Linked DNA regions of Homo sapiens: region 2 is linked to region 1. A link means that fine-mapping ties the variant in region 1 to the expression of a gene that starts in the linked region. Tissue or cell type: whole blood. Region 1 holds a variant in brackets; the other region holds the start of a gene. All regions are shown on one strand. Distances are between the middles of the regions.

Region 1 (8,059 bases):
CTCGCCTTTCCAGCCTGCCCGTCCTTCTCTTCCAGGGGCAAGTGCAGCGTCACCCTGCTCAACGAGACCGAGTCGCTCAAGTCCTACCTGGAGCGGGAGGTGAGGCCCAGCCCGGCCTGGTCTGCCGCAGCCAGTCCCGGGCCACTGTTTCCTCTACCTATGACCTCTGCTGGCCTGGGCGGCGGAGACGATTTTCCCTCCTCCCTCTAGGCCCAGGCTGTTCTGGGGGGAAGCGGGGATTGCGTCCTGACTGTCACTTCCAGGTGTCCTGGTGTGTGGCCGCCCCCACCCTACGCGTCCAGAGTTGTGGGCCAGGAGCTTGGAGCTCTTTCCTCTTGCCACTGCCACCCAGACAGCCAGCGAGGGGAGGTCCCCCTGGGGAGGGTGTGGCTGAGGCAGGTGGGGGCAGGGGCCACCTGAGTCTTCGCAGGAGTCTTGGCTGGTCTCTCCTGGGCGGTGGGCAGAGTCCTGGTAGGCCCACCTTGGGGGTCACTGTGATTATACGGTGTTACCAGGTGATTCTTATCTGGGGGTCACCTGTGATTATACGGTGTTAACCTGCCGTATAGCATCCCCCAAGGCGTGACAACCAAAAAATGTGTCCCGACAATGCCATACATCCCTGGGGAGCAGTGTCGCCTGACGGAGAGCGGTGGCACTGAGGCTGCTGTGAGATCCAGCGAACGGGAGGGTTGGGTTTTCTGAGGCCACGTGGGGGCAAAAGCGTCTGGAGTGTGTTGGTTCCCTGGAGTGCCTGTCACAGTTGCGGGGCACACCTGCCAAGGGGCAGGCGCATCTCCAGGCCTAGGGCTTGGCCTCCCACGGGCTCTGCTGCCACCTGGCTGGAGTCTTGTGACCTGAACACCCCCAGCGTGTCCAGTCAGCTCAGATGCAGGTTGCTGGATGCGGCCCCCACCCTGCCCATCCCAGGGGGGCTCATCTCTGTCGTGGCCATCGGCGCTCTGGCATGGGCTCTGAAGGATCCAGGATGGCCACGGTGTGTCCCAAGCTCAGCCCTGCACTACCTCTGTGGCCCCGGTCCCCATTCCCACCACACAGCCTGGAAACAGGCGTGAAGGGCGACAGTGGCTCAGCTAGGGCTGTGGTCGTGCCTTAGCTCAGAGTCATGAGCAGGCAGAGAAGAGCAGGCAGGGCTTGGCCTGGGGTCGTAACACATGCGTGGAGCATGGGCAGGGCTCGAACCCTCTCAGGCTGCCAGACCAGCTTCCCAGAAGGCTGAGCCACAACATGCTGGGCGGGAGCAGAGGCTGTGGGGGTCGCTGTGAAGGCTTCCACTCAGGAATGAGGAGTGCCCTTATTGACAGAGCCACACAGAGAGGGTGAGACTGCAGAAATGTATCTGTGGGCACAGAAAATGTTTGTTAGCAAAAAAGGCCCGTGAGGAAGCAGCAGGTGCAGTGACAAGCCTGTCTGCACTGTGTCCGCCCAGAAACGGCCGGGTCCATGCTTGCCGGGGACAAAACAGGCTGCTCAGGCACCCTGAAACCCTCCTGCTGCACGATGCAGCCCTTCCCCCCTTTTTCTTTTTCTTTTTTTGTTTTTTTTTTTTTTTTTTTTTTTTGAGACAGAGTTTCGCTCTTGTTGCCCAGGCTGGAGTACAGTGGCGCGATCTCAGCTCACTGCAACCTCCGCCTCCCGGGTTCAAGCGATTCTCCTGTCTCAGCCTCCCGAGTAGCTGGGATTACAGACGTGTGTCACCATGTCCGGCTAATTTTTTGTATTTTTAGTAGAAATGGGGTTTCACCATGTTAGCCGGGCTGGTCTCAAACTCCTGACCTCAGGTGATCATCCCGCCTCTGCCTCCCGAACTGTTGGGATTACAGGCATGAGCCACTGCGCCCAGCCACTTCCCTCTTCTTTCTTACCTGGGGTTTCTGAACAGCCCCAATATGGGAATTTAATGTAACAGGCTCAGGGTGAGTACACTTAGCACCTGGCAGAAGCTTGTGCCACTGGCCCCTGGGCGATCGTGCCCCTGCCTCGCCTCAAATAACCCTCACTGATGAAGTCCTGATAAACACAGGCTCATGTCACAGATAAGCAAGAGTGCAGAAACAGCACACAGCAGTCACAGACACACCCAGGCCCTGACCAGTGGCGCAGTCCGGCACCAAATAGAAACCACTTGTGTTTATTAATTTAAAGAAACAGGCCGGGTACAGTGGCTCATGCCTGTAATCCCAGCACTTTGGGAGGCCAAGGCCGGGGGAATCACTTGAGCTCAGGAGTTCAAGAGCAGCCTGGGCATCATAGTGAGACCTCACCTCTACAAAAGTAAAAAACATTAGCCAGGCGTGGTGGTGCACACTTACTGTTGTCCCAGCTACTCAGGAGGCTGAGGTGGGAGGATTGCTTGAGTCAAGAGGCGGAGGCTTCACTGAAGCAAGATCGCACCACTGTACTCTATCTTGGGTGATAGAGCAAGACCCTATCTCCAAAAAAAATAAAAGATCCAGGCAGAGTAGGAGCTGAGGCTGAGGCTGGCAGCTGGCCTCTGGATAGTCGTGTCAGTTCAAGAGGACGAAGGCCCTGAAGCATGGCTCGTGGTCACACATGGAGCAGGTGTCATGCTGGACTTTAAAGGTAGCTCTTGAAAGAAAACACGCAGAGTAGCTTTCAGAATAGGAGAGACAGGGAAAGCGGGTAAGGGCTGGAAAAGACGACCCACAGGAATCAGGAGGATGACCTGGAAACGGGAGGGTGATTGGACGCCAGGCACACATGCAGAAGAAAGTGCAGCCCTGGCTGAGGCCAGGTGCTCAGGCTGGGACTCCAGGGTCAGGCCCGGACAGGCCTGCTTCAAAAATCATCAGAACCAGCCCAGTGCAGGACACACAATGCCGGACAGCAAAAGGTTGGCAAAGGCCATGTCCTGGAAATGCCATCCCAGAGGCAGCCTGGGGGCCCTGGTGTGAGGTTGCCTGAGATGGAATGCTGGCGGGAAGGGCCGCGCCTGCTGCGCGGGTGGCGGCCGGCGGTGCTGAGCCTGGAATGCTCCGTAGCGCTCCAGCGGTGGCCGCTCCTCCAAGGTTGTGCCCAGAACTCCTGATTTCTGTTGCTCTTAAACACCTTGGATAAGTTACATCTTCACATTGCTGCTGCTGATAGGGATGGCTTTGTAGCCGGGCATAGCACACGCCTGTAGTCTCAACTACTTGGAGGCTGAGGTGGGAGGATCACTTGAACCCAGGAGGCGGAGGCCACAGTGAGCTGTGATTGCACTGCTGCACTCCAGCCTGGGCGACGGAGCGAGACCATGTTTCGAAAAAGGAAAATAAGTCTGCTGGGCGCAGTGGCTGACGCCAGTAATTCCAGCACTTTGGGAGGCCGAGGCGGGTGGATCACCTGAGCTCAGGAGTTTGAGAACAGCCTGGCCAACATGGTGAAACTCTGTCTCTACTGAAAATACAAAATATTAGCTAGGTGTGGTGGTGGGCACCTGTAATCCCAGCTACTTGGAAGGCTGAGGCAGGAGAATTGCTTGAACCCGGGAAACGGAGGTTGCAGTGAGCCGAGATCACGCCATTGCACTCCAACCTGGGCGACAAGAGCGAAACTCTGCCTCAAAAAAATAAAAAGGCAAATAAGTCATGGTTTTTGGGCTGTAGCCGTATCCACCCTGCCTTGGTAAAGGCTTGTGGAGCCTGGCCCCACCCCTGCAGCTGCTCATTGGCCCTGCCTCTGCTGACCCTCGGCATGTCTCCTCCGTGCAGTGTCATGGGGCAGGTGCATCCCCCAGTGACCCTCGAGGCCCCGCTGTAGGCTCCTCCCAGGCATGGCCGGGAGCTGTGGGGGCTCCTGCGCCCTCCCTCCCTCCTGCGCCCATGTCGCCCCACAAGAGCTCTGGGCAAGACCCTCCCAGCAGCCCGGCCGTGCTGACGCCTCTCTGACCCTCCCAGCAGCCTGACTGTGCTGACGCCTCTCTGTCTCCTGTGGTGTTTTCCAGGATTTCTTCTTCTATTCTCTAGTCTACGACCCACAGCAGAAGACCCTGCTGGCAGATAAAGGAGAGATTCGAGTAGGAAACCGGTACCAGGCAGACATCACCGACTTGTTAAAAGAAGGTAGGGTGGGCCGCCCTGGGCATGGAGCCCTCTGTCCTGTCCTGTCCTGCCGGGTGACACACTGGGTGAGAGGAGGCTGGGACATGGCCGTGTCAGTGATTCATGTGTGACTGGGGGCGGCAGGTGTAGGCCTGGGCTCTGTCCACATGGGTGATGCGTGTAGGCTGGTGTCCCGGAGCCTTCCCCCACCCACTCCTGGTGGTGTTGGGGTTCTGGGGAAGCCTCAGACCCTCAGGCAGGACGTGGTGATCAGCTGTCCTTGCACAGTGACACCTGGTTTCCTTCTGGCAGTTGTTTTTCTTTTTCTTTTTTTTCAGACGGAGTCTCGCTCTGTTGCCCAGGCTGGAGTGCAGTGGGGTGATCTCGGCTCACTGCAACCTCCGCCTCCCAGGTTCAAGCGATTCTCCTGCCTCAGCCTCCCGAGTAGCTGGGATTACAGGCGCCCGCCATCACGCCCGGCTAATTTTTTTATTTTTAGTAGAGACGGGGTTTCACCGTGTTGGCCACGTTGGTCTTGAACTCTTGACCTCAGGCCTCCCAAGGTGCTGGGATTACAGGCGTGAGCCACCGAGTCTGGCCTTGGCAGTTATTTTTCATTACTTTTTCTTTTTTTTGGACAAGGTCTGGCTCTGTCGCCCAGGCTGGAATGCAGTGGTGCAATCACAGCTCACTGCAGCCTCGACCTCCCAGGCTCAGATGATCCTCCCACCTCAGCCTCCTCAGTAGCTGGAACTACAGGGGCACCACCACACCCCCCTAGTTTTTTTGTATTTTTATTAGAGACAGGGTTTCGCCATGTTGCCCAGGTTGGTCTCAAACCCCTGAACTCAAGTGATCTACCTGCTTCGACCTCCCAAACTGCTGGGATTACATGTGTGAG[C/T]CACTGCACCTGGCCTCATTTTTTAAAGTTCTTTTTGCCTCCAGAAATTTTCTTCTGTGTGAATCTGCCCACGTTTCTTGTCTTGCCTGTGGGTGCCCCACCCTTGAGGCCTGCTGGGGCCGTGGAGCTCCGACGCAGTGCTCACCCCGGATGCTGGCAGCCTCCTCCCTCCACCGGGTGCTTCGGTAGCCCTGGTGGGAGGTCCTGGGGCTCACTGTCCCCTTCTCAGCCCTGTCCCTCATCTCCCCGCTGGGCAAGGCCGCGAGGCTGCCCTCGAGACGCAGGGCTCTGCCCCCGAGGGTGGGCGGGGACTCGCCTCCCTGCTTGCAGTTGTGATCAAGGCGTTTCGTGCTTGTCCTGTTTTGGTTTGTTTTGAGAGCGGGTCTTGCTGTGTCGCCCAGGCTGGACTTGAAGTCCTAGGCCCCAGCGATCCTCAAGCCTCAGCCTCCCGAGTAGCTGGTGCTGTTTCGTGTTCTTCTTGATTGTCCGTAAGGTGCTGGTGCGTCTCACAGGTGGCTGGGTGTGCCACCTCCTCCAGGCAGCTGTGGGCTCCAGCATTGGGCTCGTGGGCCTGCTACATTGCAAGCATCTGTGCTCTGGGAGGTGCTTGGCAGTGGGGGAAGACCCCCACATCTCTCCAGGCAGACAGGGCACATTGAGGGCTGGGCCTGGGGAGGAGGCCTCTGTGCTGAGGCCTGTGGGTCGGAGCCTGGGGAGGCCGCTGTGCTGGAGCCCGGCCTGTGGGTCTAAGTGTGGGGAAGTCACTGTGCTGAGGCCTGTGGGTCTGAGTGTGGAGAGGCCGCTGTGCTGAGGCCTGTGGGTCTGAGTGTGGAGAGGCCACTGTGCTGGGGCCCGGCCTGTGGGTCTGAGCATGGGGAGGCCGCTGTGCTGGGTCTGGGCCTGTGGCCTCCAGGGTGCCCTGCTATCATGCCAGGGTCTCCCAGCCTGGGGCTGTCTTGCCTTTCTGGCCTGGCCAAAGGTGAAGGCCTGGCAGCCGCACCCAGGTGGAAAGGCAGAGTCCGTGGCTGGGAGACAGGTGAGAACACAGATCACATGAGGGCCAGAGAGTGAGGAGCTGTCTCAGGTCAGAGGCCCTCAGCTGGCGCATCTGTACCTTCAGCCTGGGGCCAGTGGGCCTGTCAGGAGAATGGGCCTTGAGGTGCCCCCATCTTACCATGCACACCTGGAGAGACCTGGCGGAGCTCTGCAGGGTCTGGGGCGATGGGACTAAGGGTCCACAAGGCCGAGCCAGCCGCAGGAGCCGGCCTCCTCTCCCCACGCTGCCTTCCCCGCTGCCCTGCCGTTCCTTGGCTTTTGGGCCGCTGGTGCAAGGACCAGGGATCCCACCAGCTGGTGTGGGGCCGGGACGTGGCGTCCAGAGCTTTCCCCACCTCCGAGAGGCTGTGTCCCTCTTGAGTGATGGAAAATTGCACACTAGTTGTGCACCTGCCTTTAGTGAGTTTGAAATGTCAAAGGGAGTGCGACCATCATGACCAGCAGTGCGCATACACGGAGGCACCATGGCTTGTGTGGGTCACACCAAGGCTCAGCTTCTTGGCCGTCAGGGAGCTAGGCCCCAGCTTCCCCAGGGTACCCCTGAGCCAGGTGAGGAGTCCACACCAGGCTGAAGACCCCCCAGCCCGCCTTGCTGGTTCACACAGCCCCAGTCCCTGGCTGACCCCGTCCTCTGAGTCTGGCCAGGCATTGTTTCCTAGAGGCCGCATGGCCTGACCCTCCCTGGACACATGGCCCAGGATGTCCGGCCCTTGGGGCAGGGTCTGGGAGCCAGTGCCCCTTAGCGAGGGATAGCATTTTCTTGGGGACTTTCTAGTCTCAAGAGCTCTCTCCATGCTGGACCTGCAGCCGGGCGCCCCAGTGGAGGGCAGCCCCGCACTCCGTGGTCCTTGGTCTGGAACCTCGGTGCTGCCCAGGGCTGGAGGGGAGCTGCTTGCAGAGTCTGAGCCTGGCACCCTGCACTGAGCTATGGAGGCGGCTGAGAGGTGGACAGAGGACAATTGTGGAGCTCTTTCTCCAAGTCCTCCCCCAGGAGTCAGGCTCAGCCATGCTCAGACACACATTCTCCTGAGGGTGTCTCCCAACACCACGGTCTTGTTTTTTGGCGAGTAAAAGGCTGTTTCGTCAGAAACCCTCCTGGCCCTGGCCGACTGCAGGCGTCAGGTGGCCTCTTCACCAGCCTTGAGTTCTCCATCGTCCCAGCTCCCAGAAGACAGGAAACAACTGGTGACTCCAGAGGCACGCCCACTCCCTGGCCCCCGGCTCTGGCTGTGCCAGGCTTAGCCGCAGCTGCCCCAGAACCCCCTGGGGTGGAAGAGGGGCCAGGAGGGAGCCTGTGCCCCCAGAAGGTCCCTGGAGGTGGTCTGCCTGCTGCTGTGACGTGGCAGGGCCCTCTTGCAACAGCATGTGAACCCAAGTATCTCAAAATAAAAAGCTTGGGCCGGGCACGGTGGCTCACGCCTATGATCCCAACACTTTGGGAGGCTAAGGCGGATGGATCACCTGAGGTCAAGAGTTCGAGACCAGCCTGGGCAACATGGTGAAACCCCGTGTCTACTGAAAATACAAAAATTAGCTGGGCATGGTGTCGGTGCCTGTGGTCCCAGCTACTCAGGAGGCTGAGGCAGGAGAATCGCTTGAACCTGGGAGGCGGAGGTTGTAGTGAGCCAAGATCGTACCACTGTATTCCAGCCTGGGCGACAGAGTGAGACTCCGTCTCAAAAAATAATAATAATAATAATAATAATATAAATAAATAAATAAAAAGGCTTGATTTAAATTTACAAACCAACCTTCCCATCTCTTGTGGCCACAGTTCTTGGAGCCCTGCATTCTGGGTGGGCTGGGAGGCCCCTTGCGTGTGCACCCCAGCCCCGGGTTGAGAGGCCACTGTGTGCCTGTGTGTGCAACAGCCTCCGTCCAGCCTTGCACCCTGGCCTCACCTATGGGGCCCTGCAGCCCTTCCCCCTCCCCGTCCCAGCAGCTCCCCGCACCCGGGGAGGAGAGGCGCGGCCCGGCGCGCCGTGGGACCCCGTCTCAGAAAGGCCACACTTCCTCCCTGTAGGCGAGGAGGATGGCC
Region 2 (8,069 bases), 210 kb before region 1:
TCAGAAGTTTGAAACCAGCCCGGGCAACACAGCGAAACCCCGTCTCTACTAAAAAATACAAAAAATTAGCCGGGCATGGTGGCAAGTGCCTGTAATCCCAGCTACTCAGGAGACTGAGACAGGAGAATCACTTGAACCTGGGAGGTGGAGGTTGCAGTGAGCTGAGATCGTGCCACTGCACTCCAGCCTGAGTGACAGAGCAAGACTCCATCTCAAAAAAAATAAATAAATAAATAAAGGAAGCAATGAAATTAATGAACTAAAATAACAGAAAACTAAAAATTAACAAAATTAATTATTTAAAGTAGGCAAAGGGACTAATAAGAAAAAGAAGCAAATAAATTACCACTGTCAAGAAAAGAATTAAAAAGTCCAACAGCCAGTATGGTGCTGACATAAAGACAGACCTACAGACCAACAGAACAGAACAGGACAGGACAGGACAGGACAGGACAGCACAGGGCCAGAAATGACAATGACAGACAGATGACCTTCAACAAGGGTGACAAGAACTTCTTGCACAATGGGGAAAGGATGGTCTCTTCAATATGCAGCGCTGGGAAAACTGGATATCCACTTGCAAATAAAGATAGACCCTTACCTTACATCATACACAAAAACTAACTCAAAACCGATGCAAGACCCAAACACAGACTTGAAACTGTAAAACCCTTAGAAGAAAACAAAGGGAAAGACTTCACGACATTGGTCTTGGCAATGATTTCTTGAACATGACACCAACAGCAAGGGCAACGAAAGTAAAAATAGACAAATGGGATGACCTCAAACTAAAAAGTTTCTGCACAGCAAAGGAATCTATTAACAGAAATGATATCCTATAGAATGGAAGAGACTATGTGCAAACCATCTATCTCATAAGGGGTTAACAGCCTGAATATACAAAAAACTCCAACTCAGGAACAAAATCGATTAAAAATGGGCAAACTGCACTTTTGTAATCCCAGCTCTTTGGGAGGCTGAGGCACAAGAATCGCTTGAACCTGGAAGGCGGATGTTGCAGTGCACCCTCACCACCGCACTCCAGCCTGGGCAACGGAGTAAGACTCTGTCTCAAAAAAAAAAGGCAAAGCCCTTGAACAGACGTTTCTCCAAACACGCCATGCAAATAGCCAACAAGCACATGAGTAGATGGTCAACATCATTATTTATCAGGGACATGCAAATCAAAACCACATGACACTACCTCATGTCCATTAGGATGACCATTATCACAAACAAAAAAGAATAGGCTGGGCGCGGTGGCTCACACCTGTAATCCCAGCACTTTGGGAGGCCTAGGCAGGTAGATCACTTGAGGCCAGGAGTTTAAGACCAGCCTGGTCAACGGAGTCTCGCTCTGTCATCCAGGCTGGAGTGCAGTAGCATGATCTCAGCTCACTGCAACCTCCGCCTCCCTGGTTCGAGCCATTCTCCTTCCTTGGCCTCCCGAATAGCTGGGATTACAGGTGCCCGTTAATTTTTGTATTTTTAGTAGAGATGGGGTTTCACCATGTTGGCCAGGCTGGTCTCAAACTCCTGACCTCAAGTGATCCGCCCACCTTGGCCTCCCAAAGTGCTGGGATTACAGGCGTGAGCCACCGCGCCCAACCTACACTGTAACATATTTAAAAATCAAAGTGCAAAGGGTGGTTTCTTTCTAAGGATGAAAATTATTATTCACATGCTCCACACCACCATGCAGATCAAGACGCTGACTACCTCTGGCGGCTCAGCAATTCTATCCTGGCACCCCCGGAGACAGCTGTCGCCCAGGTCTTGTGTGCTGCTGTAAGTTATTCCTTCTCACTGCATTCCCCAAATGGACCCACCACAACCTGCTGATCCTTTCTGTTGCTGATGGACATGTAGGCTGTCTCCACTCTGGCCATTTGTATTTCTCCTGGAAACTGCTTATGCCCGTTACCTTTTTCTATGGAAACAGACGGCTGGGACAGAAACCACGGCCACAGCAGCCAGCGTGTCTTTGCCAGTGGGGTCCCACACTATGAAATCGCAGCTGTGGCCTCGGTGGGTGTGTCCTTGGCGGGTGCATCCACACACTTTCTCTCGGAACTTTCCGGACTCTCATGCATATGCTACAGCTTTCCAAACGGCTTGGCCGTGCGGAGTTACGCACCCACCTGCAGCAGGTGATCTCCAGCTGCTCTGCATTCCACCAACACTACGTGACAAGTCTCAAGTTCAGCCGCCTGGGGGCTCGGGCACCCCATTCCTGGGAGAAATGATGATTTGTGCACTCTGGGCCATTGCATGGTGTCTGTTCACGTCCTTTGCCCGTTTTTTAAAAAACTGGGTTGTCAGCCTTTTCCTTCCTGACTTGTAGTTGCTCCTCCATCCTGGAGAGTCCTTTGTTGAAAATACCGCAAATATCTTCTGAAGAGGACTCTCCCAGGGAACATTCACTACAACTGTAACGACCACAGAGACACAGAGCTCCTGTTCACTGTTTAGCCCAGGACTGCGGTGACAGGTGCACCCATGACCCGAGATGCTGGCTGCGTCCTGTGGGGTTTCCTGCATATGGAAGTTTTAAAAGTCTAAAGCCTGGCGGTCCAGGAGGTTGCGTGTGTGTCCTCGGGGAGGAACCCTCCTGACAGCCAGGCCTCTGGAGCTTCGTCTGCACGCGAGCTTGGCATGCACCAGCTGTGCGGCCCAGGCCAGGTGACACGGCCTCTGAAGTCTGGTCTCCTCATCAGCAAAGCCAGTGCCCCATGCCACGCACCTCCCAGGATTAGCCCCAGGCCGGGAGGCTAGAGGCCCCACAAGGAGCGAGCCTGCGACTGCGATCCACAGGCAGAGCCACAGAGGCAGGGCGCGCCCTGGGGCCCAAGCTCCAGGGCTGCAGGCCCAGGGCCAGATCCTGACTTGCCCACCCGCCGGCTGTGTGACCTTCAGCGCGCGACTAACCTCTCTGTGCCTATTTCCTCGAGGAAAATGCCGGGAAATAGCAGCGCCTGCCCCTGTAAAGCCCTCAGAGCAGAGTGGACCGCGCTCTCTGCAAGCGCTGGCTGCTGGCGTCCGTAGCAAGCTAAATCGCGAAGCATCTGAACGAACGAGGAAGCCCAACGACCATCCCACAGGCCGCGGCCAGAGGCAGACTCCGGAATGCAAATGGCCAAACAAGCAGGTCCACCTGCGTTCCTAACCAAAAGATCGCTAACTGAAGAACGGGCGCAAGCACCTGCGCATGGCACTGCGGGTCTGGGGGCGGCCGCCTGCCAGCGCCGGGAGCCGCCTTCCACGGCTACCTCTGCACAGCGCGCGGCTCGCGCCGGTTGCTGGGCAGAAGCTCGAGCAGCTTCGAGGATGTCGGGCCTGGGGGCGGGGCCGCGAGGCAGCGACGTCGCGCGGGGCGCGGCCCTGACGCAGCGTGACGCACCGGCGCCGCGGCGGGTACGGGCTCGGGCGGGCGGGCGGGCGGGACGGCGCCCCCCGCGGCCGGGCCTGGCCGGGCTGCGCTAGGCTGGGCTCGGGCAGGGTCGCAGGGGCGGGGGTGGCAGGGGAGCGGGTGGCAGCCCCGCGGGTCACAGCGCCGCCGCCGCCCATGCTGCTGCCCCTAGCCTGCCTGCACGGCCGCGTCGCTCAGTGCCTGACCTCCTTGCTTTTGCTTGCAGAGCCGCTCCCGAGGCCCCGGCGCGGCGCGAGGGCGCGGGGCGCGGCGTCCACAGGCGCCGAGGCTGCCCCCGCCGCCCCGCCCGCGAAGATGGCGGCGGAACTCTACGCTCCCGCCAGCGCCGCGGCCGCGGACCTAGCCAACAGCAACGCCGGCGCCGCCGTGGGCAGGAAGGCCGGGCCGCGCAGCCCGCCCAGCGCCCCCGCGCCAGCGCCGCCGCCGCCCGCGCCCGCGCCGCCCACACTCGGCAACAACCACCAGGAGAGCCCCGGCTGGCGGTGCTGCCGCCCCACGCTGCGCGAGAGGTGAGCCCGTGCCCCGCGGCCCCCGCGCCCGCGCGCGCCCACGCCCCCAGCCCGTGCCTCTACCTTTGCAGGAACGCGCTCATGTTCAACAACGAGCTCATGGCCGACGTGCACTTCGTCGTGGGGCCCCCGGGGGCGACCAGGACGGTGCCCGCCCACAAGGTGGGTAGCGGCGGCCCCTCTCGGAACGCGTGCCCCGTCCGCCCCGTCCGCCGTGTGGCTGACACGCAGCCTGCGGGAGAGCCAGGCTCACGGCGGCGCTTTCTCCTCCCAGTACGTCTTGGCTGTCGGCAGCTCCGTCTTCTATGCCATGTTCTACGGAGACCTGGCGGAAGTCAAATCTGAAATTCACATTCCAGACGTGGAGCCCGCAGCCTTTCTGATCCTCTTAAAGTAAGTCCACTCTACTGGGGAGGGACGGGTGGGTCCGTTTTAGGCGGCCTCCGGAGGCTTCTGAAGGGAAGCACACAGGAGCTGATGGACTCCTCTCCCAGGCCCAGCCCCGCGATGGGTGCTTGGGAGCCAGCCCCTGACGCGGGCCCTGCCTCGCCTAGGTACATGTACAGTGATGAGATCGATCTGGAAGCCGACACGGTGCTGGCCACTCTGTACGCTGCTAAGAAGTACATCGTCCCAGCATTGGCAAAAGCCTGTGTCAACTTTCTGGAGACAAGTTTGGAAGCCAAGAACGCCTGCGTCCTGCTGTCCCAGAGCCGGCTGTTTGAGGAGCCCGAGCTGACGCAGCGCTGCTGGGAGGTCATTGACGCACAGGCCGAGATGGCCCTACGGTCCGAAGGCTTCTGTGAGATAGACCGGCAGACGCTGGAGATCATTGTCACTCGGGAGGCCCTCAACACCAAAGAGGCGGTGGTCTTCGAGGCCGTCCTGAACTGGGCCGAGGCGGAGTGCAAGAGGCAGGGGCTGCCAATCACCCCACGAAACAAGAGGCATGTTCTGGGGCGAGCCCTCTATCTGGTCCGAATTCCAACCATGACCCTAGAGGAGTTTGCCAACGGCGCTGCCCAGTCAGACATCCTGACTCTGGAGGAGACCCACAGCATCTTCCTGTGGTACACGGCCACCAACAAGCCCCGCCTGGACTTTCCCCTGACCAAGAGGAAGGGCCTCGCCCCGCAGAGGTGCCACCGATTCCAGTCTTCTGCCTACCGCAGCAACCAGTGGCGGTACCGCGGGCGCTGCGACAGCATCCAGTTTGCAGTGGACAGAAGGGTATTTATTGCAGGGCTGGGCCTGTATGGCTCCAGCTCTGGGAAGGCTGAGTACAGCGTGAAGATTGAGCTCAAGCGGCTCGGGGTGGTTCTGGCTCAGAACTTGACCAAGTTCATGTCAGACGGATCCAGTAACACCTTCCCGGTCTGGTTTGAACACCCGGTCCAGGTTGAACAAGACACCTTCTACACGGCCAGTGCCGTCCTGGACGGCAGCGAACTCAGCTACTTTGGGCAGGAGGGGATGACGGAAGTGCAGTGTGGAAAGGTGGCCTTCCAGTTCCAGTGCTCCTCGGACAGCACCAACGGGACTGGGGTCCAGGGTGGGCAGATCCCTGAGCTCATTTTCTATGCCTGAGGTGCCCGGGGAGGCTGCAGCAGGTCAGCGAGTGAGTGGAGGGGAAGTCAAGATGCTAACTGCTTCTTGACACCATGAAAGGCTGCTCTTAACTTTGTCTCTCTTTGACATGTAGTCAGCTGAAGCTTGACTGTGTAGAGACATTTTCCACACAGCCAGAACCCAGGGATTGGAGTCTTAGGCATCTCTGGTACAGTGGGGTGCACGTCTCAGGTGGAGGAAGATTTACGGCTCAAGACAGGCCCCAGATCCCCTCCCAGTGGCACCCATGCCACCTGCTTTGAGGGGTTGGATCTTCCTGCTACCCTCTTGGATTCTAAGTGGTTCCAAGCTTAACTTGAGACCTTCCCTTCAAATCTAAAATTGGCAAAAAGTCACTTAAAATAGTGGACTTCTGTAATAAAGGTTGCCTAAAATAACACCCACGTGTCAGTAAATGACTACAGCAGTTGTACAGTGGGGTATTCTCTTTCTCATGCAACAGAACAGCTCCCTCCCATCCCGAGGAGAAAACCTGTCATGCTGAACATGCTATGTGGTTAGGAGCAAACTGCGCCCCAGTGAAGCCCATCTGTCCCCTGGGTTGCTGGCTGGCTTCTGGGCCACCCTAGGAAACACCAGGTGCCTGGTTGTCTCTATGTCCTAATGCATCACTAGCACCTCAGAGTCCTACCCTATGAACAGACTGTCGGGGGAGCATTCTGCTGGGCCCAGCGTTCTGGACCCTGGGGACTGTCACTAGCTGTGACACTGCTGCGGGACAGCCTGTTGCAGGAGTGGACTATAGGGTGAAACAGGCTCTCCCACCCCTTGTCTCTCTCCTCCCACTCTGCATACCCTGTAGGCAGTTGTTTTCTGGAAAACCTGTATGACCCCCGAAAAGAGGGATGGCCCCTCTTGGCACCTGGGAGAGGGCATGGGCCGAGTGTATAGCCTCAGCCGGTGCCCCTCTGCTGCTGCAGCCCGTGTTGCTCAGTCCTGTTGGTGACCCAGCCCCACCTGGTGCTTCTCTACCCAAAGGACATACGCTCCTAGATGCAAACAGGCAAAGTAAGAAAGGGGCCTCTAAGCGGGCCATGGAAACCAGTCATCTGCTTGGTAAAGAAAGGGTAGGTCAGAACCATCGGGCAGTGAGTGCTGTTTTGATCCTTTCCTTCTAGACTTTTCCGCTAGGTTAGATTCTGCATGCATGAACACTGCTGCTGCCTCGAGGGAGAGACAGGACTTACCCTACACCTAACACACATCAAGAAAGGCATACAGGAGTTCCACAAACTCGCACACAACACAGAACAAAAGTGGCAGAAAAACCACAAAAGAGGGCTGTGGCTGGAAAGCACAACCAGGAGCTGCCCCACTGTCCCCATCTGTCCAGAGGCACCTGGAGCCAGGTGTGTCCCTTAAACCTTGTCCACACAAGATGCTCCCAGCACGCAGCACTTGTTTCCCTGTCTACACCTTCCTGCCACCTGACAGGCACTGACAACAGGCCTTCTGGTTTTGCAGCAGAAAGCAAGCCCCAGGCCAGGTGCGGTCTCATGCCTGTAATCCCAGTGCTTTGGGAGGCGAAGGCACGAGGATCACTTGAGGCCAGGAGTTTGAGGCTGCAGTGAGCTACGATTGTGCCACTGCACTCCAGCCTGGACAACAGCGAGACTGTGTCTTAGAAAATAAGGCCCCACATTACTGAGCTCCTAGCAGCTTTAAGAAACATTTCTTACCTTGAGGGGTCCCATGCTTGGACAGGATTTCCCTCCACTGTTCAAAGGACATTTGGCACGCTGGTCCCTACAGCAGCCTGCCGGACACCCCAGCATCTCACCCAGATGCCTACCTATGGCCGGCGCATTGATGCAGAGCTCTCTTGCCAAGAGAAGAAACGTCTTTCCAAGCACGTACACATTCACCTGAGATGGAGAGATCACAACCAGAAACAGCATTGGTATTTAAGGAAATGTTTGCTTTTTTTCTCTTAAAATGCATCTCTTGTGCAGTCTTTAAAGACTCCGATGGCCCGTGGAGCAGCCACCCCACACCCGCAAGCCTGGCTGGCCTCCCTTGGCTGCTGGGGCTCCCAGGGCCCTGCCTTCTTCCTCTAAGCCGCTGCTTTAGGCCGTGCTGCCGTCTCGCCAATGATGGCATCTGCTTAGAAGAAAACCTGACTGCAAGGTTCCTCCCAGGGCGTCATCACACGGTGCACGCAGCATTTCATTCACAACTGCACACCCATGAACACAAAACCAGTTCTGTCCACATGTGCTCCCACCAGCCACACCTCCAGCCCAGATTCCGATGGGCCCAGGGGTCTTGGCCTCAGCCCCCTTGCTGGGACTGAGATCTGTGTTCCTCAGTGACTCCCCTGCCCCCCACACTGTTCCTACCTTAGGTCCAAATCCACACAGATCCTGTCACCCCTGCCTCGGCTATCTGCCATAGGGCAGTGGAGGTGAGGCCCAGACCGAGAAGGGCAACGCCGAGGGCTGGCAGTGATGGGAGCACCGCTGCTTGTCCTCAGCAAAACAAGGACTCTAGCCTGTGTGCAG

What was found. PIP is the estimated chance that this variant, and not a neighbour inherited with it, causes the effect.
Region 2: it holds the start of BTBD6, and the variant in region 1 is fine-mapped to the expression of BTBD6 in whole blood (TOPMed, PIP 0.95).

What each region holds. Positions count from the first base shown.
Region 1 is chr14:105,450,226-105,458,284 of GRCh38, forward strand. It overlaps MTA1 (metastasis associated 1), which reads left to right. Exons shown (of 21, transcript NM_004689.4): 6 at 36-99; 7 at 3,968-4,085; 8 at 8,045-8,059. Among named protein-coding and RNA genes, the nearest start is that of CRIP2, 21 kb to the right of the region's middle. The variant C/T (reference allele first, on the strand shown) is at 4,966.
Region 2 is chr14:105,245,147-105,253,215 of GRCh38, forward strand. BTBD6 (BTB domain containing 6) reads left to right here and starts at 3,387. Exons shown (of 4, transcript NM_001387567.1): 1 at 3,387-3,939; 2 at 4,011-4,101; 3 at 4,214-4,332; 4 at 4,494-5,947. The coding sequence starts at 3,566. The coding sequence ends at 5,526. BRF1 (BRF1 general transcription factor IIIB subunit) reads right to left here. Exons shown (of 18, transcript NM_001519.4): 5 at 7,361-7,433. RefSeq lists enhancers at 3,013-3,803, 4,595-5,384 and silencers at 3,179-3,738, 3,939-3,988.